7 linked regions of the Homo sapiens genome follow. The gene in region 1 interacts genetically with each later gene. Each region holds a gene or a part of one and is shown in the gene's direction. Other genes may lie near its edges. The genes, in order: ETAA1, STK36, PLCE1, PEX26, FMC1-LUC7L2, ANKRD18B and SCAMP1.

The links.
Region 2: changes in ETAA1 (region 1) and STK36 are lethal when combined (synthetic lethality), as found in Homo sapiens cells (one large-scale study listed by BioGRID).
Region 3: changes in ETAA1 (region 1) and PLCE1 are lethal when combined (synthetic lethality), as found in Homo sapiens cells (one large-scale study listed by BioGRID).
Region 4: changes in ETAA1 (region 1) and PEX26 are lethal when combined (synthetic lethality), as found in Homo sapiens cells (one large-scale study listed by BioGRID).
Region 5: changes in ETAA1 (region 1) and FMC1-LUC7L2 are lethal when combined (synthetic lethality), as found in Homo sapiens cells (one large-scale study listed by BioGRID).
Region 6: changes in ETAA1 (region 1) and ANKRD18B are lethal when combined (synthetic lethality), as found in Homo sapiens cells (one large-scale study listed by BioGRID).
Region 7: changes in ETAA1 (region 1) and SCAMP1 are lethal when combined (synthetic lethality), as found in Homo sapiens cells (one large-scale study listed by BioGRID).

Annotation. Positions count from the first base shown.
Region 1 is NC_000002.12:67,406,838-67,410,559, forward strand, and holds part of ETAA1 (ewing's tumor-associated antigen 1), read left to right. Parts: intron 1-3,073; coding exon 3,074-3,201; 3' UTR 3,202-3,722. UniProt on the Homo sapiens protein: Replication stress response protein that accumulates at DNA damage sites and promotes replication fork progression and integrity.
Region 2 is NC_000002.12:218,699,257-218,703,850, forward strand, and holds the end of STK36 (serine/threonine-protein kinase 36), read left to right. Parts: coding exon 1-92; intron 93-2,609; coding exon 2,610-2,753; 3' UTR 2,754-3,459; downstream 3,460-4,594.
Region 3 is NC_000010.11:94,241,305-94,245,898, forward strand, and holds part of PLCE1 (1-phosphatidylinositol 4,5-bisphosphate phosphodiesterase epsilon-1), read left to right. Parts: intron 1-4,594. UniProt on the Homo sapiens protein: The production of the second messenger molecules diacylglycerol (DAG) and inositol 1,4,5-trisphosphate (IP3) is mediated by activated phosphatidylinositol-specific phospholipase C enzymes.
Region 4 is NC_000022.11:18,080,184-18,084,777, forward strand, and holds part of PEX26 (peroxisome assembly protein 26), read left to right. Parts: intron 1-3,253; coding exon 3,254-3,549; intron 3,550-4,594. UniProt on the Homo sapiens protein: Peroxisomal docking factor that anchors PEX1 and PEX6 to peroxisome membranes. PEX26 is therefore required for the formation of the PEX1-PEX6 AAA ATPase complex, a complex that mediates the extraction of the PEX5 receptor from peroxisomal membrane.
Region 5 is NC_000007.14:139,403,150-139,407,743, forward strand, and holds part of FMC1-LUC7L2 (FMC1-LUC7L2 readthrough protein), read left to right. Parts: intron 1-2,494; coding exon 2,495-2,638; intron 2,639-4,024; coding exon 4,025-4,201; intron 4,202-4,594. Other genes in the region: LUC7L2 (putative RNA-binding protein Luc7-like 2), read left to right, coding at 2,495-2,638, 4,025-4,201. UniProt on the Homo sapiens protein: Plays a role in the assembly/stability of the mitochondrial membrane ATP synthase (F(1)F(0) ATP synthase or Complex V).
Region 6 is NC_000009.12:33,565,406-33,569,999, forward strand, and holds part of ANKRD18B (ankyrin repeat domain-containing protein 18B), read left to right. Parts: intron 1-813; coding exon 814-1,095; intron 1,096-1,697; coding exon 1,698-1,909; intron 1,910-3,265; coding exon 3,266-3,488; intron 3,489-4,594.
Region 7 is NC_000005.10:78,418,889-78,423,482, forward strand, and holds part of SCAMP1 (secretory carrier-associated membrane protein 1), read left to right. Parts: coding exon 1-15; intron 16-2,912; coding exon 2,913-3,072; intron 3,073-4,594. UniProt on the Homo sapiens protein: Functions in post-Golgi recycling pathways. Acts as a recycling carrier to the cell surface.

The DNA of each region.
Region 1 (3,722 bases):
TCCTATTAGTACATATAAATTTATTTTAGTCCTGTTAATGACTATGTGATATATATGGTGGATGTATCATAATTTAACTGTTTCTCTGTGATGGAAGTTTGGGTTGGTTGCAGTCTTTTGCAATTACAAACAATACTCCAGTAAATATCCTTCTGCATAAATTTCCGCATGCTTGTATAATTGTATCTGTTAATTCCTAAAAAATTGCTACAAGAGGAAGTTTTAAAATTTGATGGATACCACCAAATTTCTATCCGAAGCAGTTATACCAATTTATCTTATCAAAACTTACAGTAAATAATTCTCTACACCCAAGGGTGTCCAATCTTTTGGCTTCCCTGGGCCACATTGGAAGAATTATCTTGGATCACACATAAGATACACTGACACTAACAACAGCTGATGAACTAAAAAAAAAAAAAAAAAAAATCACAAAAGAATCTCATAATGTTGTAAAAAAGTTTATGAATTTGTGTTGGGCTGCATTCAAAGCCATCCTGGGCTGCGGGTAGCTTGCGGGCTGCGGGTTGGACAAGCTTGCTTTACATGATAGCCCAAACTAGATATTTTGAAATATTAAAAATTGTTCTCAATCTATAATAATTTTAAGTATTTAAATTTGTATTAAAGTGAGCATATTGTAACTAAATCAAGCATGTTCCTAGCATGACTTTATTTACAGATAGAGTTGACCCTTGAACAGTGTGGGGGTTAGAGGCGCTGATCTGATTTGCAGTCGAAAGTCTGTGTATAACTTTTGATCCCCTAAAAACTTAACTGCTAATAGCCTGCTGTTGACCAGAAACCTTTCCGATAACATAATTAATTAATACATATTTTGTATGCTCTTATATGTATTATATACTGTATTCTTACAATAAGCTGGAAAAGTGTTATTAAGAAAATAAGGAAGAGAAAATAATATTTACTATTCATTAAGTGAAAGTGGATCATCATAAAGGTCTTCATCCTCATGATCTTCATGTCTAGTAGGCCGAGAAGGAAGAAGAGTAGGAGTTGGTCTTGCTGTCTCAGGGGTGTCAGATGCAGAAAACAACCTACAAATGAGTGGACTTGCCAGTTCAAGCCCATGTTGTTCAAGGGTCAACTATAGTTATAATTCTATAAAAGACTAAACCTCCTGGAGTATTTGAGTTTTCCCAAAACTCCTATCTACCAATCTATCTGCATTTTTTATGGATAATCTGCGTTTTAGCTTACCTTATCAATATTTTCTTTAAACTTATTGATAGTACTGAATCTCTTAATTACTATTAACTTTGTTGATGTTTTCTATTGTTTCTACTTCCTTTTACTTTGGTATGTAGCAAGCTGCTCTCCAGGGAAGTATCTCTGAAACAAAACTCACTTAACTCCCACATTTATTTCAGGCAGGAGTTGGCAAACTATGATCTGTCCAAATCCAGCCTGCAGCTTGTTTATGTATAGCCAGCACACTAAAAATGATTTTTACATTTTAAATGGTTGGAAAAAAATTAAAAGGAGAATAATATTTCATGACATTTGAAAATTATATGAAATCCAGATTTCATTGTCCATAAACAGGTTTTATTTGAATACAGCTCATCAGTTATTTATACATTATCCATAACTATTTTTGCTACAGTGGTACAGGTGAGCAGTTGCAACAAGATACTCAAAGGTTAACATTCTTGCTTTCTGACTCTTTCTTTACAGGAAAAAAAAAAATTACTGACCCTTGCACTGTAAGATCAAGATTAAGAAGAGCAGCTTTTGCTTAGTACTTTACAATATTTTAAGACTTCATTGTGTATTTTTATTATAGATTGAGTTAAAGGAAAGACTGATGGGAAAAATGGATGAGTCCCTAAATCAAATTTTCATGGTGTGACCTGATTATCATTTGAAATTATTTTCTATAATATTGCCAAGCAAATTGTAAGACCAACTTTAGGAAGTTATGTTTTCTGCTGTTACAGATTATTAACCTGTTTTCTTTCCACACAGTCAAATTCAGTGTAAAGTCTTTGGATGTGTAGTCTGAGTTTGTTGTGTTTCTCAGCTTTGAGACTAAAAGTATTAGATAATTAGTCAAGCTAATTAGAAAGTATCTTCTGGTGTCTCTCTTTAGGAAAAAATATCTACAGTCTGTTAGGTAAATAGCTTAGGAAATAAAAGCCATCAAAATCATCTGGGAAACTTATTTAAAATATGTATTTCTTAGCCTGAATACCCCCTCCCATTTCTGATTATACCAAGAAAGGAAAGGGAGGCAGATTATATATTTTGAAAATGCCTCTGTTAGTTAACAAGAGAAATGTCTCATAAATTGTGTATCTTTTTCTAAATGTCAGAATAAATGATATACTTAAATATGTATTAGGGTGATAGTCTTAAACTTAAAATATCATTTAAATGAGAAAGTGATTTCTAATACAAAGCCTCAACTTACTAAGTTAATTGAGATTATTTTAAAGTTTCTCCAAAATGCATCCTCCAAATAAAAATATAATTTCTGACAGTGAATCACAGGTAACCAGTTTGACATGACAGATTTCATTTTATCACTCTAAAATATATTTCCTCAGTGGATGAAATGAAAATTTTATAGCTCTATAGGGAAAAGTAGATGTGAATATTAATATAACATCTTATGTAAATATACACTGTTTGAGATTGATAACTAATTTAATTCCTTATATTTTGACTATTTTCCAATTAAAGTTTACATAACATTTTAAATCCCAATGTATCCTTTTTAAAGATATATTTATTCGTGGGTCATATAAATTAGATGTCATTGTCCACAAGAATTATTTGGTGGGTAGTCAGTTTTCTATCAAACTGAATTTTATCACACTGTGAAAAGAATGTATCAAATAGAGACAGATCCATCAGTGCTTGATTTTCTTTTGAACTGGAGCATTATATCTGTATTATGTACTTAGAATTTTATATTCAGTAGTTTAGTTTGATTTAATAGCCAACTAATATGGCAAATCTGGGTGATTAAAAAAAGCAAAAATTAAAGCACATATTGAATGACTTTATAGGCTATAAAAGTAAAACTCATCTTTTGTTGAATTTTTAGAGGAAGAAGAGAAAAATAGAAAGTGTTCTCCTGAAGAAATTCAGAGAAAAAGACAAGAAGCACTGGTTCGGAGAATGGCTAAAGCACGAGCCTCATCTGTAAATGCAGCTCCCACTTCATTTCTTTAATGAAATATTAGTTGGAAGACTTCACGAAGACTGCTGATAACTATCTGTGATTGATAGGAAATTTTTTTTCTTGATTTCTCTGTGAGAAATGTAATGCTGACTTTTATAAAGCCTGGACTTCTACTTTATTTAATAAATCAATGTTTGCAATGGTAAATGAAACATTTCCTTGGACATGTATTTGAAAGTCATTAAATACAAAAGTTTTGGAAATTCAGGAAAGTTAGCAATTATGTACGGATATTATACAGAGGAAAGTAGTTATATTTTTAAATGCTATTATTGCAGAGGATCATCAAAAAAGAGGTAATCTACGTTATTTCCTATTCTAATGTCTTTTCCTAATAAAAAACTTCAACTTTCTAAGTTAGTAGAGACTGTTTTTGTAGTTTTACTTTCATTAACTGTTGCTTAAGGTTTTTATACACTTCCAGATTTTAATTAATACTTTCATATTTCTAGGAACATGGTTGATATGAAATAAAGGACTTTTTATTTGTAAGGAAATTATGTTCAGTTCT
Region 2 (4,594 bases), about 150 Mb from region 1:
TAGAAATGGCATGTGGAGACCCCCAGCCAAATGTGAAGGAGGCTGCCCTCATTGCCCTCCGGAGCCTGCAACAGGAGCCTGGCATCCATCAGGTATACCCTACAGCACTTATGAACCATGATGATCAGGGCCCCTATAGTTGACAACATTTCTCTGAGATCATCTGTAAGGAATTGGAATCGGGACATGGAGAAACTTATGCCGTGTTTCTCCCAGGGACAGTGTCTTGGAGTGAGTTTTCTAGTTACATCTCCTGCCTTGGAGGAGGGAAGGGAGCTAGAAGAGGGCTCCAATGGGCTGGGAAATGTCTGAGATCTCAAGGACCACAGTTGATCTCTTCTAGAGGCTGTGCAGGAGGGAGATGAGGGAAGACTAAGAGATGCTGAGATAGAGTAGTTTTACTCTGTGTGCCATGAAGGTGCTGACTATTTTTTTTTTAGACTTACCATGAGAAAAGCACGATGCTAAGCATTTTACCTTTATTATCTGGTTTAAACTATTATTATCCTAATTTTGCAGATGAGGAAACTGAGGCACAAATAATTTAATAACTTGTCCAAATTACAAGGACAGTATGTAGGATTGGGCTTTTGAACTCAGAAGTCTGAGTCCAGAGCCCGTACTCTTAACCACTACTTTATCCTTCCTCTTCTGCGCAACTTTCTTTTTCCTTTTTTTTTTTTCTGAGACAGAGTTTCACTCGTACTGCCCAGGCCGGAGTGCATGGCATGATCTCGGCTCACCACAACTTCTGCCTCCCGGGTTCAAGCAGTTCTCCTGCCTTAGCCTCCCGAGTAGCTGCATTATAGGCATGTGCCACCACGCCTGGCTAATTTTGTATTTTTAGTAGAGACAGGTTTCTCCATGTTGGTCAGGCTGGTCTCGAACTCCCAACCTCAGGTGATCCACCTGCCTTGGCCTCCCAGAGTGCTGGGATTATAGGCGTGAGCCACTCTTTTTTTTTTTGAGACTGAATATCACTCGTTGCCCAGGCCAGAATACAGTGGCGCAATCTCAGCTCACTGTAACCTCTGCCTCCAGGTTCAGCCAATTCTTGTGCCTCAGCCTCCTGAGTAGCCGGGACTATAGGTGCCTGTCACCATGCCCGGCTAATCTTTGTATTTTTATTATTTATTTATTTATTTATTTACTTATTTATTTTTAAGATGGAGTCTCGCTCTGTTGCCCAGGCTGGAGTACAATGGCACAATGTTGGCTCACTGCAACCTCTGCCTCCCAGGTTCAAGTGATTCTCCTGTCTCAGCCTCCCAAGTAGCTGGGATTACAGGCACACACCACCTTACCTGGCTAATTTTGCATTTTTAGTGGAGACAAGGTTTCACCATGTTGGCCAGGCTGGTCTTGAACTCCTGACCTCAAGTGATCCACCCGCCTCAGCCTCCCAAAGTGTTGGGAATACAGGTGTGAGCCACCCTGCCTGACCGCGATTTTCAGTATATAAAGAGTCCAGTAGGCCAGGCTCTGTGGCTCTTGCCTGTAATCCCAGCACTTTGGGAGACTGAGGTGGGCGGATCACTTGAGGTCAGGAGTTTGAGACCAGCCTGGCCAACATAGTGAAACCCTGTCTCTACTAAAAATACAAAAATTAGCTGGGTGTGGTGGCAGGCGCCTGTAATCCCAGCTTCTCGGGAGGCTAAGGCAAGAGAATCCCTTGAACCTGGGAGGAGGAGGTTGCAGTGAGCGGAGATCATGCCTCTGCATTCCAGCCTGGGTGACATAGCGAGACTCTGTCTCAAAAAAAAAAAAAAGCCCATTGGAAATCACAGATATCTACATATGGTAATATAAATTATGACATCTCAAAGTGGTAGCATTGGGAAGTTCATGCAGAGCAGAAATTTGAGAGGATGGTGAAGATCTTTTTTTTTTTTTTGAGACGGAGTCTCACTTTGTCGCCCCCAGGCTGGAGTGCAGTGGCGCGATCTTGGCTCACTGCAAGCTCTGCCTCCCGGGTTCACGCCATTCTGCCTCAGCCTCCCGAGTAGCTGGGACTACAGGCACCTGCCGCCACACCCAGCTAATTTTTTGTATTTTTTTTTTTTTTAGTAGAGACGGGGTTTCACCGTGATAGCCAGGATGGTCTCGATGTCCTGACCTCGTGACCCGCCCGCCTTGGCCTCCCAAAGTACGGGATTACAGGCATGAGCCACCTTGCCTGGCCGATGGTGAAGATCCTATAGGAATCTTGTGCAATCCATGGGGAAAATAATTAATGGGATTCTTGGTGGTAATGAGGTTAGAACTCACTGGTCTGCATTGAAGGCTAGGAATTAGACCTTTTGGCTTACTGTGAGTTACTGCTGCATTCATCAAGTCTTCCTGGGGACAAGTATATGTGTCCCTTAGTGCCTTGGTTTCATGGTCTATAACCAAAGAGAATGGAAGTAGACTTCTGGTCCTGATGATTCCTATCTCCAAGGTTTCTCTTCTGCCATTCAGTCTATTCCAAGTCCCCAAGAGCCCATTTCCTTTTTCTTCCTCTTCTCGAGTGGGAATTCCTGGGTAAATGAGAGTCCTCCGCACCTGCCCCAGACACCACCATTTCTGAGCCTCATGTTCTGTTCTATCATCTGTTCTCTATCCTACAGGTACTGGTGTCCCTGGGTGCCAGTGAGAAACTATCCTTGCTCTCTCTGGGGAATCAGTCACTGCCACACAGCAGTCCTAGGCCTGCCTCTGCCAAACACTGCAGGAAACTCATTCACCTCCTGAGGCCAGCCCATAGCATGTGATTCCAGATTCCTGCGGTCCAGCCTCCAACTTTGGTTGCCAGCTCTTTCTTATTCTACTACACAAGCCGCCAACTCAACTGAGAGCTAAAGAGACTAGAAAAGAGATAAGCTGCCAACTCAACTGAGAACAAGAAACTAGAAGAGATTTATATATAAAGCTTCTTCCTTCTCCCAGATGCAGGATGTTTTCAACCAGTAAATTTTATTGCTGTTGGTGCCAGAGAAGAGTCCTTTCTTCTCTACATCCAGGGGCCTTTTCTCCAATAATGTGCCTTTAACTCTAGGGACCTGCCTCACGGACCTTAGGGAAAAACCTCAACCTGAAAGATCTCTTCCTTTCTGGAGCTCCTTTAATCTTCCCAGCAGGTTTTTGCCTTAGACGTGCTGGCCCCAGGACAGTGATGAAGACAGAGCCTGTCTCAGCTCTAGGCTGTGGGGATCAATGCCATCAGTCCCTGTTATTGAGGGATTATCCCTTAGCCAACATTCCTATCTGTGGGTGGGCGTGGAGAGTGTATCTTTTTTTGGGGTGTGTGTGTATATGTGTGTGTGTATGTGTGTGTGTGTTTAATAGTTCTGTTTGTAAACTCTTTTAATAAAAGTTGTGCCTCACCATACTTGAAGCTCCCAGGACAAGGGTTGAGAGGCTCAACCCCTCTTTCAGCTTCTATGTGGTGTTGGAGGTGCTGGTATCGTGTTCACACAAGATCCTGGTCTGGCAGCTTATTTATATCATTTCTTGCCTTTACCAATTTCCCCCTTCCTAGATGAACTATATTTGGTTACCTACTTTCAAGTCAAGGCCGGTGGAGCTGAAATAGGAAAGGGTAAGATTCAACAGAGCGGTCAATTAGGTTGCTCAGACTTAGTGACTAATTTTAATATTTAGTGGAGTTCTAATGTGTAGGGACTCCAAGCTGCTGTAGAAGGATAGCTATTTTAAAGATTGTACAATTTACCAGAAAGGGCTTTTAGTCAGACCTGTTAGAATTATAATCTAACTGGAAGCATTGGAAAACCTTAACTCATTGGATGGCTTAGAACAAGCTTCCAGGGCCTTGATTTCTCCATCCATAAAATGAGGAGACTCCTTTCTGTCCTTCCTTAAATTCCAGTTGTTTTAGAAATGAAAGACAAGTAAAGTGCCCTTATTTTTATAAGAAATTTTGTTTAACCCTCATCTTCATTGTCCACAGTGTTTATACTTTAGCAAAAATAATATTTTTCTAGGGAGCACCATAATTTTCTTCTATCCAGATTATCTCAATTCAGTTCAATGTATATTTTTTGAGTCCTTTCTGTATGCCAGATACTATTCTAGGTACAGGAGATAAAACAGTGCCCATCATAGAGTTTCCATTCTGGTCGGGGAGATAGTGAAATTATTAAAAGAATAGTATGTAGGAAGGTGGTAAAAGCTATGGAGAAAAAGAAACCAGGGAAAGGAGATGAGGAGTGCTGAGTCGGATGGTCAGGGTAGGCCTCACTAGAAGGTGACACTTGAGAAAAGACTCGAAGGAGGCGAGGGAGTGAGTTGTGCACCTATTTTGGGGAAAAGCCAAGGCCCTGAGATGAAAGCATGCCTGGCATGCTTGAGGAGCTATGAGGAACCAGTATGGATTAAGTGAGTAAAGAAGGTGGAGAATAGTAGGAAATGAGACAGGAAGGTAATGGTGGGGGCCAGATATTGTAGGCTTTGTAGACCTTGGTGAAGACTTGGGCTCTTACTTTGAATGAAGGAGGCATCTATTGCAGGCTTTTGAACAGAGAATTTTATGAACTACCTTGCATCCTAAACGGATCATTCTTCATTCTGGTCTTGTGAATGGCTATGGGGAGTA
Region 3 (4,594 bases), on another chromosome or scaffold:
GAACATGCTTGACTTAACTCAGAACTTAAATGGAATATGGAAAACACCATTTATCTTGCTAAATTAAAATCAGAAGTTCTATGTACAAATTTACATGTTGTATTTTAATGGGTACTAACACTCACCAATTGAATCCTTTTTGCTCTTAAAACAACAAGAAGTAGGACATGGAGAATGTGGAAATGGTCCCAAAAGAAAGCCCCTTGGCCGGGCATGGTGGCTCCCCCCTGTAATCCCAGCACTTTGGGAGGCCGAGGCAGGTGGATCACAAGGTCAGGAGTTCAAGACCAGCCTGGCCAAGATGGTGAAACCCTGTCTCTACTAAAAATACAAAAATTAGCCGGGTGTGGTGGCGGGCACCTGTAATCCCAACTACTCAGGAGGCTGAGGCAGAATTGCCTGAACCTGGGAGGCGGAGGTTGCAGTGAGCTGAGATTGTGCCACTGCACTCCAGCCTGGGCAACAGAGCAAGACTCCATCTCCAGAAAAAAAAAAAAAAAAAAGCCCCTCTAGAGGAACAGCTGGGCTGGGCTGAGGTAGCCTAGAGAAGAGGAAGTGAGAAAGGAAAAGTGCAAAGAATTGGTCTTCCTATATTTAATGAGTGTACTTTACCAAGACAGGCGCTGTGCTAAGTGCTTTCCAACTGTTATCTTATTTGATCTTCACCATTATTCTATGAGATGAGCATTGTCTTTTTGCCATCTAATAGTGAGGCTCAGAGAGGTTGAGTGTTTTGATGAGGTCACACAGGAAACAGGTGGTGATGTTTAACATTAAACCCAGGATGACTGCAGCAGGCATGTATGAAGCCATTGTGTAAGAGGACATAAGTATTGGTTTTCCAGTGTTACCGAGAGCAATTTCAGAGGGATGGAGCTAAATAAGACACAAATGATTTTTTTCTTATTTCACTTTTTATTATGAAGTAACATTAGGAAAAGAGCATAAAATATCATGTAACCCCAGATCTTGTGTTTTTTTTGTTTTTGTTGTTTTATTTTTTATTTTTATTTTTTTGAGACAGAGTCTTGTTCTGTTGCCCAGGCTGGAATGCAGTGGCACAATGCCAGCTCACTGCTCACTACAAGCTCAGCCTCCCAAGTTCAAGCAATTCTTGTGACTCAGCGTCCCAGGTAGCTGGGACTACAGGTGCCTGCCACCACGCCCAGCTAATTTTTGTATTTTTAGTAGAGACGGGGTTTTACCATGTTCGCCAGGCTGGTCTTGAACTCCTGGCCTCAAGAGATTCACCTGTCTTGGTCTCCCATAGTGCTGGGATTACAGATGTGAGCCACTGCGCATGGCCCAGATCTTGGTTTCTAATACCATTCTTCAGTAAAGGGAGGCAAGGTTTCTCCTAGAGAGGCTGATTCGAGGACTGGGGCAGAAAATACACAAGGTGAGCCTGGAGCATGTTGTAGTAAGGAAGTTCTCAAAAGAAACACACAGTGATGGGAGCTGTGAAAGGAATACAAGAACCAACTGGAAGAGCTCCCAATAGCCACAGCAACAAAATAAATAAAGTAGTATCACATTATAAATCACCCAAAGTATTAAATTAATATTCATGAGCTCATACTGATACAAGTAAATGATATGTGTAAATGATAAATAAACAAATGGGGGAGAAGAGATCCATCTTTTGTGCAAAAGAATTCCCAATAACTTAGGCAGATTCTTCACCCTCAAGGAAGTGCAACATAACTCCCCACTCCTTAAGAGTGAGTTGGGCATGGTGACTTTTTCCCAAAGAGTAGAGTATGGAAATGAGTTAAAAATAATAATAGTAGTAACTGTACAGTGGCACATGACACACAGGTCCTCAGCCAGGTGATCAGTATCACCAGAGAGAAGTCATGTTGGTAGTAGGTGCCCTCAATATGATGTGATAAGAATGATACTTTACCTCTATGGTCTTCCCTCCCCAAACCCATAACCTGCATCTAGTTATGGAAAAAATATCAGCCAAGTCCTAACTGAGGGGCCTTCAAGAAAACACCTGAGCAGTACTCCTCCAAACTGTCAAGAGCACCTAAAACAAGGAGAGACCCTCATAGTCAAGAGGAGCCTAAAGAGACCTGACAAGTAAATGTAATGGGAGATCCTGGAAGAGAAAAGGGACATTAAAAACTAAGAAAATCTGAATAAAGTGTGGACCTTAATTAGTGATAATGTGTTAGGATTTGTTCATGAATTATGACACATATACCAGACTAATGTAAGATGTTAATAGGGAAATTTTTGTGTGAGGTACACTGTCTTTGGAATTTTCTATAAATCTAAAACTATCCTAAAATTAAAAGTTTATCGAAACAGTGTATTTGAATAATTATCAGGTGACTGAGCATAACTAGCATCCAGGGTTAGAACATTGCCAGCACCCCTAAACTTCTTATTTCCCTTCTGAATTATTACCAGCCTCCCCCTAGAGAAAACTACTATTATAAGTTTTACAATAACATCTTGTTTTTCTTTGTAGTTTTTCTACTAATATGCCTTCCTAAATAGTACAGTATAGTTTTTGCCTGGTTTTGAAATTGACATTTACAGAAATGTATGTATTTATGTATCACAAATACATACCATATGCATTCTTGTGTGTCTTGCTTAAAATTTGTGTTATTCCATGTAGTTAGCTATTGCTTATTCATTTTCATTGCTGTACAGAATTACATTGCATGAATACACCAAAATCTATGCATACATTTTATTGTTGCTGGACTTTTGGTTATTTCTGGTATGGGGCTCTGAAATGGATTTTCTCACCGTCAGATTTGTGAGACACTAAAATTCAATATTTGTGGTAGACTTTTTTTTTAAAGAATATCCACGTGTGGGGCAAGGATGTAGAACCTGCTGTTTGAAAGCAAGAATGGTAATCTTGTTCAGGGACCATAGTCTAAACTGAGGAGTATCAACAAGCCCCATGATACTGTCGTTGCCTCATCAAGAGGCAGTAGGTGGCCCAAGTGTCTCCTGAGCATGAGAGCCTTCCTTCCCAGAGACGCGTGGACCAGCCTATGTACCAGCTCCTTCACAATTTTACTCACCACTTTGCTGGTGATGTCTGTGGACCAAATAGCAGAAACCTTGATCTTACTAACAACTTCCTATGCTTTGAAAAGAATGAGACTCTTGGGCAGGTTCCTGCCAAGGTGGCCATGTAAGAAAGAAGCAATCGCTTGCCTTCACTGTTCTCTGATCCTCTTGGCTCAAATAATCCAGGTTCCTGACTCAGCGGAGGGAACGTGCTAAATTTTCTATGCAAACTAGCCTTTTCTGTGTATACCTACACACATGCACAGAGAGAGTAGAAATCTAAGGTTGAGTCCAGGAGAACTGTTATGCTTTTCTGGCCACCGTGACCATATTTCCCAAGGAGTGTCCTTTTTAAATGTCATTTATTTTTATTTTTTGAGACAGGGTCTTGCTCTATTGCCCAGGCTGGAGTTCAACGATGCCATCACAGCTCACTGCAGACTCTACCTCCCAGGCTCCAGCAATCCTCCCACCTCAGCCTCTTAAGTAGCTGGGACTATAGGCATGCCACCATACTCAGCTAATGTTTGTATTTTTTGTAGAGATGGGATCTCACCATGTTGCCCAGCCTGGTCTCAAACTTCTGGGCTCAAGCAGTCTGCCTACTTTCTTTCCAAGGAGTATCTTTGAACTAATTGTATTTTATTTTTAACAGTTTAACAGAGGTACTTCTCAAGCCAGCCTATTAAGTCCTTTTTTAACCTAAAAAGGTTAAAAAAACCTAAAAAGGACTAAAGTCCCAGTATATTCAGATCATGACTTGTGTTTATGATTTAATTGAAGGCAAACAAGCCTAACAATGAAAATCCCAGGTATAAAGTTAGACCAAAATCTCACCTTGGCTTGGCCTCCTCTGAGAGGGGTTACCTTGAACAAATTACTTTCCCTTTCTGAACCTCGGTTTCCTCATAGGTAGAAAAAGAATAATAAAACTTACCTTGCAAGTAGATTGGATTTAGTACAAAAAATGTACATAAAGTATTTAACACGGTTCCTGACACAAGAAGGAAAACTAATACATAATAAAGATTATTGTTGTTGAGAATAAAAATACAATAACTCATCTAGTAGTTGTTTTCTTATGCTTATGGTCAGATACCTTGCTAAAGATAAGAATACAGTTATAAAGAATATTAGAATACGGTTATAAAAAGTTACTCAAAATTTTTTTTTTGCTCTGTCGCCTAGGCTGGAGTGCAGTGGCACGATCGCAGCTCACTGCAAGCTCCGCCTCCCGGGTTCAAGCAATTCTCCTGCCTCAGCCTCTCAAGTAGCTGGGACTACAGGCATATGCCACCATGCCTGACTGATTTTTGTATTTTTAGTAGAGAGGGGGTTTCACCATGTTGGCCAGGCTGGTCTTGATCTACTGGACTCAAGTGGTCCACCCTCAGCCTCCCAAAGTGCTGGGATTACAGGCGTAAGCCACCACACCTGGCCTCGGTTATTAGAAGTTACTGTGTGCTATTTAGTATTTTGTATTTCCTATGCTAATTTGAATTCATAGTGCGATGAAAAATAAAGCCCAGTGTCAGTGAAAATGTCTTTGGGTTGT
Region 4 (4,594 bases), on another chromosome or scaffold:
GGAGGAATTTAGGAGTAGAATAGATATAAAGAAGGGAGGAAACAGGGAATAGGAGCGACGTGGGATGACAGAGTGGACAGAGCTGAAAGAGCAGCTTGCTACGTCCTAGGAATTCCTAATTCTTAAAAAAAAATTTTGTTTTGTTTTGTTTTGTTTTGTTTTTTGAGACGGAGTCTCGCCCTGTCGCCCAGGTTGGAGTGCAGTGGCACAGTCTCTGCTCACTGCAAGCTCCACCTCCCGGGTTCACACCATTCTCCTGCCTCAGCCTCCCGAGTAGCTGGGACTACAGGCGCCTGCCACCACGCCCGGCTAATTTTTTTGTGTTTTAAGTAGAGACAGGGTTTTACCGTGTTAGCCAGGATGGTCTCAATCTCCTGACCTCGTGATCCACCTGCCTCGGCATCCCAAAGTGCTGGGATTACAGATGTGAGCCATCGCCCCTGGCCAAAAAATAACAAAGTTTTTAAAATTGACACTTGTACATATTTATGGGGTAAATTAGACATTTCAATATATGCTGTGTATATGTTGTATAATGATCAAATCAGGGTAGTTAGCATATCCATCACCTCATGCATTTATCATTTGTTTGTGACAGGAACATTCAAAAGCCTCTCTTCCGGCTATTTTATATATACAATACCTTACTGTTAACCATAACCACCCTACCGTGCAATAGAACACCACAACTTATTCCTCCTATCCCACCGTAACTTTGTACCCATTGACGAACCTCTTCCCGTCTTCCTTTTCTTCCTTCCTTTCCCAGTCTCTGGTAACCACCGTTCTACCGTCTGCTTCTATGATATCAACTTTTTTTTTTTTTTAAAGATTCACATGAGTGAAATCATGTAGTATTTATCTTTCTGTGCCTGGCTTATTTCACTTAACATGATGTCCCCCAGGTCCACCTGTGTTGTCATGAATGACAAGATTTCATTCTTTTTTATGGCTATATAGTATTCCATTATATATATATATATATATATATATGCGTGTGTGTATATATATACACATATATAAACACATATATACACATAATATACATATATGTACACATATACACACACACACACACACACACACACACACACACATTATCCATTCATCTGTTGTTGGACACTTAGGTTGATTCCATATCTTGGCTGTTGTGAATAGTGCTGCATTAAACAGGGGAGATAATGGATTGCTAGATCATGTGGTAGTTCTATTTTTATTTTTTTCACCTGGCCATTCTTAAGTTTATTTTGATGACACCCGGTGACAGTTCCCTGTACCTAGAAGAAGGTGTTGGGACTCTTGATGTTGGAGTGTGGCTTGTGCTGAAGACACAGGACCTGGTAGGGCAGCAGGAACTTGATCTTGGAATTGTGGAACTGCTTGACTGTCGGCCGGTGGCAGTACCAGAAGCGGGACTTGGCACAACTTGCTTAGGTGCAGAGATTTGCTGGCAGTAGAGGGGCAGCATGTGGCATTTGGGGGTGGGCAGGCAGCAAATACTCTCTCAGTGTGCCCCAGGCCTTCATGGCATTCTCTCAGCACTTGCCACCACTTACAAAAAGGAAGTGCCGTCTTTCCTATTTTGAATTTTTTAAAGGAACCTGCATTCTGTTTTCCATAATGGCTGTACTAATTTACAGTCCCACCAACAGTGTGTAAGTGCTGCCTTTCTCCACATCCTCACCCGCACCAACACTCGTTTTCTTTTGTCTTTTTGATAAGAGCTGTTCTAACTGGAGCGAGGTAGTGTCTCATTGTGGTTTTGATTGGCATTTCCCTGATGATTAGTAGTGTTGAGCATTTTTTCATATACCTGTTGGCCATGGTACGTCGTCTTCTGAGAAATGTCTGTTGAGGTCTTTTTCCCTTTTGAATCAGGTTTTTTTTTTTTTTTTCTGCTGTTAAGTTCCTGATATATTCTGGATATTAACGCTTTGTCAGATGGATAGTTTGCAAATATTTTCTCCCATTCTGTAGGTTGTTTCTTCACTCTTAATTGCTTCCTTTGCTGTGCAGAAGTTTTTAGTTTGATGTCATTTCATTTGTCCATTTTTGCTTTTGTTACCAGTGCTTTTAAGGTCTTACTGAAAAAAACACTTGCTCAGCCCAGTGTTGTGAGGCATTTCTCCTGTGCTTTCTTCTAGTAGTTTCATGGTTTTGGATTTTACATTTAAGTCTTGAATCCATTTTGAGTTAATTTTTGTATGTGGGGAAAGGTAGGGGTCTGGTCTCCTGCATATGGATATCCGATTTTCCCAGCACCATTTATTAAAGAGACTGTCTTTTCCCCTGTGTGTGTTCTTGGCACCTTTGTTGAAAATCAGTTGGCTGTAGGTGCATGAATTTATTTCTGGGCTCTCTGTTCTGTTCTATTTTGTCTGTTTTTATGCCATAACATGCTGTTATGGTTACTGTTATAGCTTTGTGTAGTATGGTTTGAAGTCAGGTAATATGATACCTCCAGCTTTGTTCTTTTTGCTCACAACTGCTTTAGCCATTTGGGGTCTTTTGTGGTTCCATACGAATTTCAGGATTGTTTTTTCTGTTTCTGAAGAATGCCATTGGTGTTTTGATAGGGATTGCATTAAATCTGTAAATTGCTTTGGGTATTTTAATAATATTCTTCCAATTTGTGAATGAACACGGGATATCTTTCCATTTTTTGTGTGTCCCCTTCAACTTCTTTCATCAATGTTTTATAGTTTTCAGTGTAGAGATCTTTTGCCAGCTTGGTTTAATTTATTCCTAGGTATCTTATTTTTTTGGTAGCTATTGTAAATCGAATTGTTTTCTTGATCTCTTTTCCAATGGTTCACTGTCACGTATAGAAACGCTGTTTTTTGTACATTGATTTTTGTATCCCACAACTTTACTGAATCCGTTTATTAGTTCTGTCTGCAAACAGGGATAACTTGACTTCCTCCTTTCCAATTTGGATACCTTTTATTTCTTTCTGTTGCCCGATTGCTCTGGCTATGACCTCCAGTACTATGTTGAATAAAAACGGTCAAAGTAGGCATCTTTGTCTTGCTCCTGATCTTAGAGGAAAGGCTTTCAGCTTTTCCCATTGATTATGCTGTTAGTGATGGGTGTGTCGTGGGGAATTCCCATGAGCATCATCATTTCATCGGAAAGGGCTCGAGGACACAGTGAGGAGGGGCTGGATAGGAGAAGCATAGTGGTCATGGGAAATGAACCAATCATTGAGCACTGACTCTTCTTTTGTTGGGATTGGGTTTTTTGGGGACTGCAGCATTCTTTTATACAGCAAAATGCAAGAGCCTGGAGCTGTGCTGGATGTGGTGGGTGCCTGGCTCCAAGACCCAGCCAATCAAAACCTTCCAGAATATGGAGCCTTGGCAGAATTTCACGTGCAGCGGGTGCTGCTGCCTCTGGGCTGCTTATCGGAGGCTGAGGAGCTAGTGGTGGGCTCTGCAGCCTTTGGTGAGGAGCGGCGACTGGATGTACTTCAGGCCATTCACACAGCGAGGCAGCAGCAGAAACAGGAACACTCAGGCTCTGAGGAGGCCCAGAAGCCAAACCTGGAAGGTAGGACATTATCCCTCTGCGACCTCTGTAAAGTGGACTTGCGGGCTTGCACTGTACCTCGGGGTCTGTCGTGAAACTCCTGCGAGCTTAGAAGCAGTTCTTTGTATGAATAACTCTTGAGTCACAGAATAGGAGGCCTGTTGATTTGCTTCACAAAGTGAAGGCCAGACCCTCTGAAGTTGGCAGTGGAAGGAGAATCTCCACATGGGAAGGTGTTGCTGGGTCTTGGGACCTTGACTTGTCTTTTGAAAGTCATTTTCCCATTGGAGTCCTCTGATGAGGTCTCTTGCTTCCACCATACTGGTCTGGGTGGGATGTCCTTCCTCCTTTAAATGCTGGCCCCAATACAGACACAGCTGAGATCTGCTGGGATAGCCAAAGGAATATCAGAAACTAATTTGCAGACCCTTTCCCTGGTCGCTGAATCTTTTCCGCCCTTTTCCTTGAGTGATGATCTAGTCTAGTTGTGAATACTTCAAGGACAGAAAGTCACCATCTCTCTCTCTTTTTTTTTTTTTTTTTTTTTGTTTGAGACGGAGTCTCGCTCTGTCGCCCAAGCGGGAATGCAGTGATGCGATCTCCGCTCACTGCAAGCTGCACCTCTCAGGTTCACGCCATTCTCCTGCCTCAGCCTCCTGAGTAGCTGGGACTACAGGTGCCCGCCACCACACCTGGCTAATTTTTGTATTTTTAGTAGAGACGGGGTTTCACCGTGTTAGCCAGGATGGTCTCAATCTCCTGACCTCGTGATCTGGCTGCCTTGGCCTCCCAAAGTGCTGGGATTACTGGCATGAGCCACTGCGCCTGGCCTGAAAGGTTCTGAAAGGTTTTAAAAAACTTTTACAAAGATGCATTCAATATAGTAAATAATATATAGTCAAAATAAGTAATAAACACGAGGAAAACAATTTATATTCATGAGATTTGCAAGAGTATGTGCAGTTAAGGAATGAAGGCTTTAGCCAATACCTAATACCCTTTTACTAAACTCTTTTTTTTTTTTTTTTGAGACGGAGTTTTGCTCTTGTTGCCCAAGCTGGAGTGC
Region 5 (4,594 bases), on another chromosome or scaffold:
TTTATTTGCTTTTAAAAGCAAATGTTAAATGTCAATATTTCACCTGTAAGTTATAACCACAGTAATACATACATAAAGTTAACAGTAATTTTTTAATGTTATCCAGTGTATGTTTATTTTTCTTATAGAGTCGATTTATTAGAATCCAAACAAGGTCTTTTATATTGCATTTGTTGATGACTTATTACAACATAATTATATTCCATTCAGTATGATCAAGTGTGTTTTATGAAAATGCAGAATGGGAGAAAAAGAGTTACCCAGGTGGAGTTTAGATGACAGTATTAAAATATGGTGTTCAGATATGTATATACAAATGAAAATAGATTCCATCGTTTGAGAAAAGGGTTGCTTTTAGTCAACCTTTTCTGAAAATTCTCTGAAGATGGGGACTGGAAAGACGGGCATCCTGAAGTACAAAGGATCTAGTATCTCATGGTTGGAAGAGATCTGTAAGTGCTTGGTAGAGCCTGAGTTGTATTGGTTGTATTGGTTATCCATCACTACACAAATGCTGTATAACAAACCACCTCAAAGCTCAGTGACTTAAAACACTATTTATTTAGCCCATGACTCTGCAGTCAGTGATTTAGGCTGAACTTGACTGAGCAGTTATTCTTGTTTCAGCTGGGCTTACTCACATGCCTTGCAGTCCACTAGAGGATGCAGAGCCATGCCCAGCAGGCTAGCCTGGCCGTGTTCTCATAGTGGTGGTAGAGGTGCAGAAGCATCAAGCCCCATCACACAGGCCTCTCCTTTGGTCATGTTTGCTACCATCTCAGTAACCAAAGCAAGTTCATGGCCAAATTCAGAGTCAGAGTACGATGGTACACAATTACATGGTCAAGGACATGGATACAGGGAAGAAAGAAGAGTTTTGGACAACAGTTTAGTCATTCAATGATACATTTAAAGGAAAATACCATTTGGTAGAGAGGGAGGATAGTGATAATAGAATTGGACTCTCATTGAGGGAAGAAATATTTTGGGTTGAAGGATATTTGAGAAGTAAAGACTATTAATTAAACCAGTAAACTGGTTTGTTGGGACTGGAAACTCATACCAAACTAAAACCTTCGGCCGGGCGTGGTGGCTCACACCTGTAATCCCAGCACTTTGTGAGGCCAAGGTGGGTGGACCACTTAAGGTCAGGAGTTTGAGACCAGCCTGGCCACCATGGTGAAACCCTGTTTCTACAAAAACTGCAAAATTAGCCAGGCATGGTGGTGCACGCCTGTAATCTCAGCTACGTGGGAGGCTGAGACAGGAGAATTGCTTGAACCCAGGAGGCAGAGGTTGTAGTGAACTGAAATCATGGCACTGCACTCCAGCCTGGGCGACAGAGCAAGACTCCATCTCAAAAACAACAATAACAACAAAAAATTAAAACCTTCTTTGCTAACATATTATAATTGGCCATACAGCAAAGACTTTGTGGCCCAAATAATGATTATATGTATGTTTTATGTGCCATTACAACAGTAGGAATGAACTAAGTTGCTAGGATGATGATGGTGATGAGGAAGAGGAACGTATTCTTTCCCAAGGCCAGAGTTAATCCTGGTGGAAAGCTAAGGACTCATAGAGTGGAGTTGCCAGGCGAGTATGCTGAAAATCAGCAAGGTGCTATGCAGGGTACATACGAGGCTTATTTTCTCATTTCTCACAACTTTGTGGGATAGGTACTTCTTAGATGAGGAAATGAATTCAGGTATAAGTAATGTGGCCAAAATTACACAGATAGTAATTGGTTTAGCAATAAGTCAGATCTGATGGATTCCTGAACTTGATCCACCAATTCATTTCTTTAACTCATATTTGAGCCTAGGCTATTTGCTGAGCACTAGAGATACAAAGATGGGAAATACAGATAGCTGTCCTTAAAGTAGTATGATATTTATGAAAGGAACTGTCAAAAAAGATACAAAGGTGACACAAAGGAGAGAGTATGGCCATCTTTGCTGATGTGTTTAAGTGGGGCTGGGATGTGGTGACTGTTCAGGAATGTTTTACAGAAATGGCCCTTGAGTTGTATCTTGTTGGAACGAGTGAATATTCAGTAGGCAGGCGAGAGGTAAGGGATCCCATCCCAGAAAGAAGAGTATATGCAAAGTAACAGAGGTAGAAAACAACAGGGTAAGTTTGGGGAAACTATAAATTATGTTGTGAGGTGGGGGAGTAGCAAGAGATGGTTTAGAAAAGTACAAAGGGCCAGATCATGGAAGAAATCGTATTTTACACTAGGAATACACCACCTCGCCAGAGGATAGAAAGTTATATTGGGCCCAGTAGTAGCCCTGACTTCATTGAGGTAAGGCAGGCAGGCTCAGAACATCCTGATGTCTCAGTAGTTCATTTGGGATACGCTCAGAAAGCATTCTTTAACCACATACTGCCTTAGATAACAAGTTTTTTCTCAGCAGTTCTGAAATACTTTGAAATTTAAAATTCATTCTCTTGTTTATTCATGATCTTCTTTTTTATTTCTTTTTAGGCAGAACGTGTTCATGAGTTAAATGAAGAAATTGGTAAATTGTTAGCCAAGGTGGAACAACTAGGAGCTGAAGGGAATGTGGAGGAATCCCAGAAAGTAATGGATGAAGTAGAGAAAGCACGGGCAAAGAAAAGAGAAGCAGAGGTAAATTCTTAATAGTAGTAGACGAATTCTGCTTAATTTGGTAAGACTACAAATAAAAAGTAGTAGATGAAACTTCAGTATCTATACTTCTCTAAGAACATGTATTTGAATGGAAATTATTGAACAGTTGTTAAAGAGAAGTTGAACTAAAAGACAAAAACAAAACAAAACTCGGAAAAAGCTGGTTGTGGTGGTGCGTGCCTTTGGTCCCAGCTATTTTGCAGGCTAAGGTGGATCGCTTGAGTCCAGTTCAAGTCCAGCCTTCTTCTTTTTGTTTTTTTGAGATGGAGTTTTGCTCTTCTTGCTCAGGCAGGAGTGCAATGGCATGATCTCAGCTCACCGCAACCTCTGCCTCCCGGGTTCAAGCGATTCTCCTGCCTCAGCCTCCCAAGTAGCTGGGATTACAGGCCCATGCCACCACACCTGGCTAATATTTATATTTTTAGTAGAGACAGGGTTTCTCCATGTTGGTCAGGCTGGTCTTGAACACCCAACCTCAGGTGATCCACCTGCCTCGGCCTCCCAAAGTGCTAGGATTACAGGCATGAACCACTGCACCAGGGCCTTTTTTTTTTTTTTTTTTAAGACAGAGTCTTACTCTCTCTCCAAGGCTGGAGTGTAGTGGTGCGATCTCAGCTCACTGAAACCTCTGCTTCCTGGGTTCAGGCGATTCTCTTGCCTCAGCCTGCTGAGTAGCTGGGACTACAGGTGTGCACCACCATGCCCGGCTAATTTTTTGTATTTTTAGTAGAGATAGGCTTTCACCATGTTGGCCAGGCTGGTCTTGAACTCCTGACCTGGGGTGATCTGTCCACCTCAGCCTCCCAAAGTGCTGGGATTACAGGCGTGAGCCACCCGGCCTGGCCTGTTTTTTTGTTGTTGTTGTTTTTTAAAATACTTTTGGTAAATTTGTCTTTCAGAAAATCTCTCTAAGTTGTATTTATTGATATAAAGTTGTTCATAGTGTTCTCTTTTAATATCTGTAGAATGTTTGCAATTCGTGTCTTTTCTTAATTAATCTAGCTGGTCAGTTTTATTTTGTTTTTCAAAGAACCAGTCTTCTGATTTTATTGTTTTTTTCTTGTTTTCTATTTCATTGATTTCTGTTCATGTTTATTATTTCCTTATACTCCAGTGGAGAGAGGCGCTAAGGATAGAGGATGGGGATAAAGGGAACCTATAATTTTCATAACAAAATAGCCATGCTTTTGTGGTTTTTTTTTTTTTTTTTTTTTGAGCTGGAGTCTCGCCCCAGTGAGCCACCGTGCCCAGCCACTTTTGTGTATTTTTTAGAAAACACTTTTGGTATAAGCATAGTATATTTTATTTAATTGTATGACTTTTAGTGAGATTTATATGGTCATTGTTTTTCTCACTTTTGTTTAGGAAGTTTATCGGAATTCTATGCCAGCTTCCAGTTTTCAGCAGCAGAAACTTCGAGTCTGTGAAGTCTGCTCTGCCTATTTAGGACTTCATGATAATGACAGACGACTGGCTGATCATTTTGGGGGTAAACTGCACCTGGGATTTATTGAAATAAGAGAGAAGCTTGAAGAATTAAAGGTACATTGGTAAAATATTCCTCACTTTATCCTCTTGTTCTTTTGATCTGTATCAGTTGCCTTTTTGTACAATATTCTTGACTATGATTCAGTAATATAGTATCTAATGATTAATACTAAACAGTGTAGGATTATAGATGGAAATTCAAGTTGGTTTAATGGATGCTGCCTGAGAAACAGACTTAATATTATCCTGTTATTTTGGGAGTTACCATTTTATATTAGATATGACACCGAGTTAGGGATCTTTCAAACTAGTTACTAAAAGAGTCCCATAAAACTTCATTGTTATTGTTCTTTTCAATAAGGTCAATAAGAATGTAATAATATAATATTTATAAGAAGTTTGAGAAAATGAACCCAATATTAATTTGAAATATTTTGCAATTCTTTA
Region 6 (4,594 bases), on another chromosome or scaffold:
ATGAAACATTTGCGGTTTAGGGAAAGGCTTATGGCATCAGAATCCTTATTTACAGGATTCATTATTTTGTGTTTTTTGAGATATGGTCTTTGTCTATCATCCAGGCAGAAGTGCAGTGATGTGGTCATAATTCACTGCAGCCCTGAACTCTGGGTACAAGCCATCCTTTTGCCTCAGTCTCCCAACTAGCTGGGTCTACAGGCCTGAGCCACCATGCCTGGCTAATTTTTTAAATTTGTTTTTTTTTGTAGAGATGGGGGTCTCACTATGTTGCTCTGGCTGATCTCAAATTCCTGGCCTCCAGTGATCTTTCTGCCACAGCCTCCTAAAGTGCTGGGATTACAAGCATGGGCCACCATGCCTAGCGTAGAGTATTATATTATTTTCAAAGTCTTATTCTGGGAGCCATTTATTGACTTTGGCCTAAATAACTCAATATGATATCTCTGAAAGGTTTTTTGACAAATTTTGGGGAATGATGATGAGGGAAGAGGGTTAGACACTTTTTACTAAGAGATAACTTAGTGCCATTTAAGGAGGAACAAAAATGAATTATCAGAAAAATAAAAGTAAAAGCAAGTGAAAAAGTTCTGTGGCAAAGATGATGTCAGTAAAGCATATTTTTGTGACTCATGGTAGCTTTAACTTTGTTCTTAAAATTCTGAGTAATTTAAGGGTTCACATTTGAAGAATCTACTACATTATAGATAACATTTTATTGCAAGTGGATGCATTTCAAAATTTGCTATTGGTTTTGTATTAGATTATTCTCAGCCTACTTCATTATCAAGCTCTATTATTTTATTAATGCAGTTTGATGATCTTATGGCCGAGAAGGAAGCTGTATCTTCAAAATGTGTCAATTTGGCCAAAGACAATGAAGTTCTTCATCAGGAGTTATTATCTATGGGAAAAGTACAAGAGAAATGTGAAAAACTTGAGAAGGATAAAAAGATGTTGGAAGAAAAAGTATTAAATCTTAAGACACATATGGAAAAAGATATGGTAGAACTTGGTAAAGTACAAGAATATAAATCGGAGCTGGATGAAAGGGCAATGCAGGCAATAGAAAAATTAGAAGAAATCCATTTACAGGTTAGTTTTTAAAATCAGGTAAGTTTATCTGTAATGGGCTTTCATTTATTTCACTGCAAACTGTATTTTGGATGTGTATATATTGTGTTTCCTCTGCCTCTCTTACGGCAATTTCCTTTGTAGAGCTCTAGAAAAAAGTGACGTTTTTTCCTTTTAAATATTTAAATTTCCATTATTATTATAACAAAATCAATCTTTCAAAGTAATGATTCTCACTATACAGTAAAAGGGGGAATTTGATGATTAAGACCAGTTGGCATAAGAGAAAACTGTGATTTAGAAATTATATGATACTTTTGAATTGGTCTTAAGCTACGTTGTTCATTGTTCACTTTTTAAAATTATAAATGGATTCTATTACTTTTTATAGGACCAGATTACATTAATACTAACATAATTATGATTCCAAATTTTTATAAATCAGACAATTCTGAATTCAGTTATTAGTTTTGTTGATATTGCTGATAAATATTTTAAGCTTCAGCCTCTTTTTAACATATTCAAAATTGCTCTTTGAATCACTGATTCAAAATGAAAGGCAACAAACATATGGTAATTAACTTATAATTGTTTTAAAAGTGTATTCTTTTCATTTGTTTTAGAAACAAGCAGAATATGAAAAACAATTAGAGCAGTTAAACAAGGATAATACGGCTTCACTAAAAAAGAAGGAACTCACACTTAAAGATGTGGAATGTAAATTCTCCAAAATGAAAACAGCTTATGAAGATGTTACAACTGAATTAGAAGAGTATAAGGAAGCCTTTGCAGTAGCATTGAAAGCTAACAGTTCCATGTCAGAAAAAATAACGAAGTAAGTCAAAACATATACTCATAGAAAATGAATTAAACTCATTAATTTGTTTTGAAAGCATAATTTTTAGTGAGATGGCTTCAGGAGATCAGTAGGAAGTGAATGCTAATTTGGTAATGTAATTTTGGAAAATAATGTTAGTAAATAATCCCTCCTTTAAAATGTTCATCAAGGATAGTTTCTGTCTCTCTTCTCTTTTTTTGCTTTTGTGTGGCTTTTTTCCCTGAAAAGTCTCATGTAGTTAACCTGACCAGTTAGTTTTTTTCACTAAGTATTTTTGAAGCTTTATGATAAATAAAGTGATCTTGTTATAAAATTACTTGTCAGAATTTTCCTAAATGGGAATATTAATGAGTTTAATTTATTTTTTGGTAGATCACAACCTGAACCCAAAGTGTCAAGTGATACTGCTACTCTGGGCACATCCTGGCACTCAGGCAGGGACTGTTTTTGAGTGTGATCTTTAGGTGTTATCACTAGAGGGTACCTCAAGAAAAACTATTTGTGTAACATTTTCAAGGTGTTACATAAAGGCATCCTTGTGAAAGAGGGAATAATTATCACAGGAATGAAAAGAAGGGTAATCCACAAGGTGGTTCAAAAATAACACCTTGTTCAGCCTGAAGGGCTGTGTGGAAGGCAGAAAGAACAAGCCCCACCTCCAGTGCCTTGGTCACAGTGTTGAGGGCTAATTGCCTTCAGAGATGCTGTAGTTCTTTTTGATCACCAACCAACCAGTCTAGTTCTCCCCCAGGAGTTGTTGCTCTGAGTTATTCCTCAGTGCCAAATACTTAAGTGTTCTTAGAGAATGGGTGAAATGTACAAGGGTGAAACCTGAAACTGGTTTACTAAACACAAGTATTTCTAGATTATTTTTGTTCATTTTAGTTTCCTTAATCTACATTATTTAAGGAGTACAACATGATGTTTTCATATAATTATTTATAGTGAAGTAGTTCTTATAGTCAAGCAAATTAACATAATCATTTTCCCACATAGTTACCCTTTAAATACAAGTATATCTAAAGGAATCTTTAGAATCTTATAAGTAGAGCTATTTTAGAAGGCAGCTAGGTTACCTGTTGAGCTGTACATCACTGATAGCCATTTCTCTTCCCTGTCTACTTTGAACTGCTTGTTCAGTAGAAATCACCTTAGAAACACATATACTTATTTAGAATGATTTTAAAATTACCGTTACTTACAAGAGGTATGCTCTCACACATCTTCGTGTGAAAACACTGTTTAATGGGTAATTTGGTTTACTCTCAGGGCAACTGTTTAAAAAATGCAAGTCATTAAGAATCATTCAAGGTAAAATGAAATACTAAGCATTTGTCTTTGCTCTCTTTACAGATCGGATAAGAAAATAGCTGTGATCAGCACCAAGCTCTTTATGGAGAAAGAGCGGATGGAATATTTTCTCAGCACTCTTCCTATGAGGCCAGACCCAGAGTTACCTTGTGTTGAAAATCTTAATAGTATAGAACTCAACAGAAAATATATTCCCAAAATGGCCATAAGAATTCCTACTTCAAACCCACAGACTTCAAATAACTGCAAGAACTCCTTGACTGAGGTTAGTTATATGACCATTTCTCTTTTGGGTTTCATTTCTCTAATATAATTCTTGTTTATAATTTGGTGAAATACTGAGTTGTTCTGTTGACTTATGCATGTTAAGTAAAGATTATAATTAGCTGTGTTAACACAGAAAGGAAATGGAAACTTTACATTTTTTAATTCCCTGGAGCTCTCATTTTCAAGAGACACCCATTTGCTAACTTTATTCAATAAATGTGGTTAAACTGACACATTTAAAATTTCTCTAAAAGCTGCATTTGTTAGGTTTTAAAAAATGCATGTTATTGCCTAATAACTGATGGTATACTTTGAAATGCTTTGTCTTACTCTACGTGACTGTAGTTTGTCTGTGGTTCATATCACTTTTTTTTTTTTTTTTTTTTTGAGATGGAGTCTCACTCTGTTGCCTAGGCTAGAGTGCAGTGGCATGATCTCAGCTAATTGCAACCTCCGCCTCCTGGGTTCAAGTGATTCTCTTGCCTCAGCCTCCCAAGTAGCTGGGACTACAGGTGCCTGCCACCACACCTGGCTAATTTTTGTATTTTTAGTAGAGATAGGATTTCACCATATTGGCCAGGCAGGTCTCGAACTGACCTTGTTATCCACCCACAACAGCCTCCCAAAGTGCTGGGATTACAGGGGTGAGCCTCTGTGCCCAGCCCATACTATTTTTAAAGTTTATTTGCACCAACTTAACTCTTTCCACCCATAATCACAAGCGAATGACAGGCAACCAAACACTTAACAACATATAGATATTTATTATTTAATAGAACCCAAAATAAGTGCATTTTATGAATTAAATAAAACACTGAAAGTTCATTTCCATTTTTCTGTTAAAACCTTTGTGCTTGGCCAGGTGTGGTGGCTCACGCCTGTAATCCCAGCATTTTGGGAGGCTGAAGCAGGCAGATCTCCTGAGGACAGGAGTTTGATACCAGCCTGGCCAACATGATGAAACCCCATCTCTACTAAAACTACAAAAATTAGCCAGGTGTTGTGGCAGGCACCTGTAATCCCACATGCAGCAACCCCATTACTATACTAGGGATATACCTAAAGGAAAATAAATCATTGTAACAAAAAGATACATGCACATGT
Region 7 (4,594 bases), on another chromosome or scaffold:
ACTACTTGTGGATGTGTGAGTATACAACAATTTACATCTTTGCTTAGAATTTGTATTTTTGTTGTCAAAATCCGCATTTTTATTTCAAGGATAGTATAGCAAACCAGTCTTCTTTTTCTATAGATAAAGCTTAATAATCATGATTTCAGAGTGAAACATATCCTATTTAGGTACTTCAGAATTGTACTATATGTGACAATGTAAGTCCTTGGCTGAGAAAAACTTGTATGTTGAGAACTGGCATTCTTTTGAGGAAAAGACAACTTCTCTGTCATGTGGGTAAAATTTTATAAGATTCTTTTTCCTTGAAAGATGTTATCTAGACATGATTTGCTTGGAAAAAATAGTGCATACTAATTTTATGCAGAGGAAGGCCATTTAAAAGAATTCTGTTAAATGTAGGCGTTTTAGCTATTTTTAAAAGGGCATAAAATTATTACATAAACTAAGTGTTCTTTTTATAGCTTTGAGTACAGTTTACTTTTTGTTTTCAATTGCGATACTTTTATTATTGAAAGTGCTTAATTAATACAGGACATTTTGTTGAACGGAACATTAGAATATACGTTTGGGGCTCTGATGCTTACATCACTTTGAGTATAATAACTCATGGAATACTGAAACAAAATGTCAAGCCGTTAACAGTTTTACTCTGTGTGCACAGACCTCCCACTTACTCTCTGTTTCATTTTTATTCCAAACAGTAGTCTCAGCCTCATTTTGATACCCTGTCAGAAGGGGAGGTAGCTATTGAGGGTTCTCACATGCACAACATCTGGGTTAATGGATAATTTGTAGGGTACATTCTTGATGGAGGAAATTTACTTGTTTTTACTTTATGATTAATGAGACTACCACCCTTCCCTTAATGGATGAGATAATTTTCCTTAAAATCTTTTAGGAGCATTCTTCATGTATGTCAAGTTGTTTTGGAATGTGAGAAGTGTTTCCTAATGGATAGTCTATTTTTAACTCTTCATTAGTATTTTTCGAGATATTCTTGATCTAATATCTTTTGCTGAATCCTCAGTGTCAGTAGTATATATTTTTAATATTAAATGTCTGATTCCATATATGTACATGCTAACCAACTCTTATTTAATCAATATAATATATGCATTTATATTTTATATATGTTTATTTTTTTAAATGGGCAGAAATTGTCCTAGCATTTTATTTTATTTTGAGACAGAGTCTTGCTTTGTTGCCTAGGCTGGAGTGCAATGGCACGATCTTGGTTCACTGCAACCTCCGCTTCCCGGGTTCAAGTGATTCTCGTGCCTCAGCCTCCTGAGTAGCTGGGACTACAGGCACATGCCATCACGCCTGGCTAATTTTTGTATTTTCATCTATACTTGGAATAATTTTCATGAACTTTAAAGTGTAATTATACATATATTTTATCTTTCTTTCAGTGGATTAGGAAATAACCTAATTTGAAAATTGAAATTTAAGTTAGAATGTTCTTAAGGTCTAAAACTTTTTAAGGCAGCTGGATGCTATTTAATGCTGCAGAGTAATAATTTTCTATTTCACAATCTTCAATTCTGTTTTTAAGATCTTAACACAACCACCCTTATTTTGAGGCCAAGGGTTTTGAGTAAATTTATTATGAGCAAGCATTCCTGAGAGTTAAAAATCCTAATGGGACTAGAGTAATGAGTGAGAGTGTCTCTTTTGTGATAGAATTGAATGGGATTTTAAAGTGGGAAAAGCTCCTGCATTTCTATGGCTGAAAAATTGAAGCTTACAGAGGTTGAGTGATTGGCTTAATATTAGATGACTACAACCTAAGTGACTTCATCTGGAGCTCTTTTTAAAAAAAAACAAAAAACAAAACTCTAGAGCTTGTTTACTTATCTGGTGGGTTAGGTAAGAGCAAATTTAGGCATCCCAGAATGTGTGTGTGTATCCTGTTTCATTAATTATTAACTTATTTGATTTGTAAAGAAATCTTAAAGTTTGAGATTTAAAAAACTAGATCCAATAGGTTTTCCCAGTTGTTAATTTTAATTCAAGTAATTTGTTGGCATATTTTTATTGATTTGATAATTTACATTAAACATCATTTTAGCTTATATAAGAATGTACTTACTATAATAAATTCAGCCTGTGAATAAATTTTTAAAAAATCCTTTGAAACAGTTATTAATTACAATGGGTCAAAGTAGTTCTTTAGGATCATGGTATAGTTAGATGTTACTCAGATTTTTTGTTTTTGGTCTGTCAGGGAAAGCAATTATTAACAGCATATGATGAATTTGTCAACATCTATTTGTGTTAACCAAAAGAAAAGCCTGCCACAGTAGCTAAAATGTATCATGTTGTGTGGGGGAGTGAGGAGGGGACTTAATAAATTTAATCCTCTACCAAAACGCAAGTTTTTTTCAGGATTTTACAAATGGACAGCTCTATGAAGTTGAATGAACAATCCTTATACATTGACTATATAGTCACTAGAAATTGCTACTGTATTAGTATTTTTAGTCCAGTGTTTAGTCTGCAGCCCCATTCTGTAAAGATATGGTTTTTCCTCCTAAGTCCTGGGTCTTTTCCTGGCAGACACTGCTTTTCTTCTTGGGCTTCAGATCAAGAGACATCACGTTTCCTTTTCGGGAAGAAGCCCTTAAGGTAGTGCGCCTCTGGTTTAGCTACATCATTGCCTGTGAGGAGGAGAGGGCCAACAGAATTTTTGCCAAACAGTACATGTATTAAGACTCGCTTTCCTGTGTATACTCTGTTTTCAAATCAAATATGTAAGATACAACAGTGTTTTGAAAAATATAAATGGAAACATGGAGTAGAATACATTTGCTCTTAGGAAGTATTTTTTTATTTACAATTTTTTGTTGGATGAATTCATAAATTGAATGTAAATCTTTCTTTTTCTATTTTGTTTTCTGATTCCACAGTCCATGCAGTAACACTGTTTCTAAATATCTTCGGATGCTTGGCTTGGTTTTGTGTTGATTCTGCAAGAGCGGTTGATTTTGGATTGAGTATCCTGTGGTTCTTGCTTTTTACTCCTTGTTCATTTGTCTGTTGGTACAGACCACTTTATGGAGCTTTCAGGTAAAATGTGTGTACTTTAAAATACACTCTTTAAAACCTGTGAAGTAAATAATTCGTAGTATACATTAAAGGGAAAATTGATGCATTTTCATTAAAAAATTCTTGTATTGTTGTGTAACATACCTTCAGGAAAGTTCAATATAGCATGCCTGTGTATTCATTGGATTTTGTAAGTCATAAAATTCCATTTTTTTCTCCCATTTGATAAAAGACCAAACATGAAAATTGATGGAAAAATAAGAACAGTCTTAGAAGTTAATATTTATAAAATATTCTCTTCCATATGTTATACTTCAAGGAAAATTTTGCTGTTTGCCCACCCCACCTCCCAAATCAAAATCCCAATTGGTGCTTATGGTTTTTTTTTTTTTAAATTAACCTAAGTAAGGTAAATATACATGCAATATTTAAAATGAGCCATTTGCACCTAGCAACTTGGATTATTTTCTTTATAAATCCATTTTAGGTTTTTTCAAAGGCAGCACCATTTTAAAAACGATTTATGCTACTAGGTTAAGTATAATGCTTTACATAGTATATTTTAATCAGTGGTTAGGGTTAACATTTCCTTAGCGCATGTTCTGTGGGATATTAATAGGTGCTGGGGGAGAAAAAAAGAGCTCATAAGCTTAGTAAATTTGGGAACAGCTGGATAATAAGGTTAAGCAAGTTTCTTCATTTCAGGATTTCTTACACTCTTTAAGTACCTAGTATGATTTGTGCCTTATGACTTGACCATGCAACCATTATTTTTCTGTGGAGTACTTTGTTGGACTATTGCTTTAAGAAGTATTGGGAAATACTGATTGAAATGATAGTCCTATATGGGTTCATATATTTAATAGTTTTTTTAAACTCATTTTTATTTGAGTAAATTCTTGTGAATAACCATTTCAACTCTCGTGAATAAGGGGTAACATTACTAGGATATATGCGTGTGTTGTTTAAAGGATATATTAGGGAAATTAGAGGCCCACATTTAAGTGTTCAGTATGTTTTGCCATTGCAACCTAAAATCTCTTTAGTTAACCAGAATGTGTAACACACGCGCGCGCGCACACACACACACACACACACACACACACACACACAGAGTTAGAAACCCAGATCTGTAAACAGATGAGGGAAAAACAGAAGAGAACAGGAGATGGGAGAACATTAGGGAATTTGGAGAGAAAATGTATCAGACAATGAAGAAGTAAATTATTACTTAGAAATGGCATAAAGAGAAGAAATGATGAGAGGAGGAGTGAAGGGAAGAAATGATGGGAGAAGGGAAAGGAGAAAAGAACCTTTGGATACATTGAAATATGGGAGATTGGTTGCCAAGGAACGGGGAGAGCTTCTCCTGTAGAGATGGGTTGGAGAGGAATGAAAGGAACATAGTTACTCCTTGCATGATCTGAGTTATTGCTGTTATTTTCTTCGTTATCTAAGCATGGCTCACAAGGCTTTTTCTGTTTTTTGTTAGTTTGTTTTGTTTTGTTTTTTTTGGACATCTAACCTCTGCCTAATGACCTCC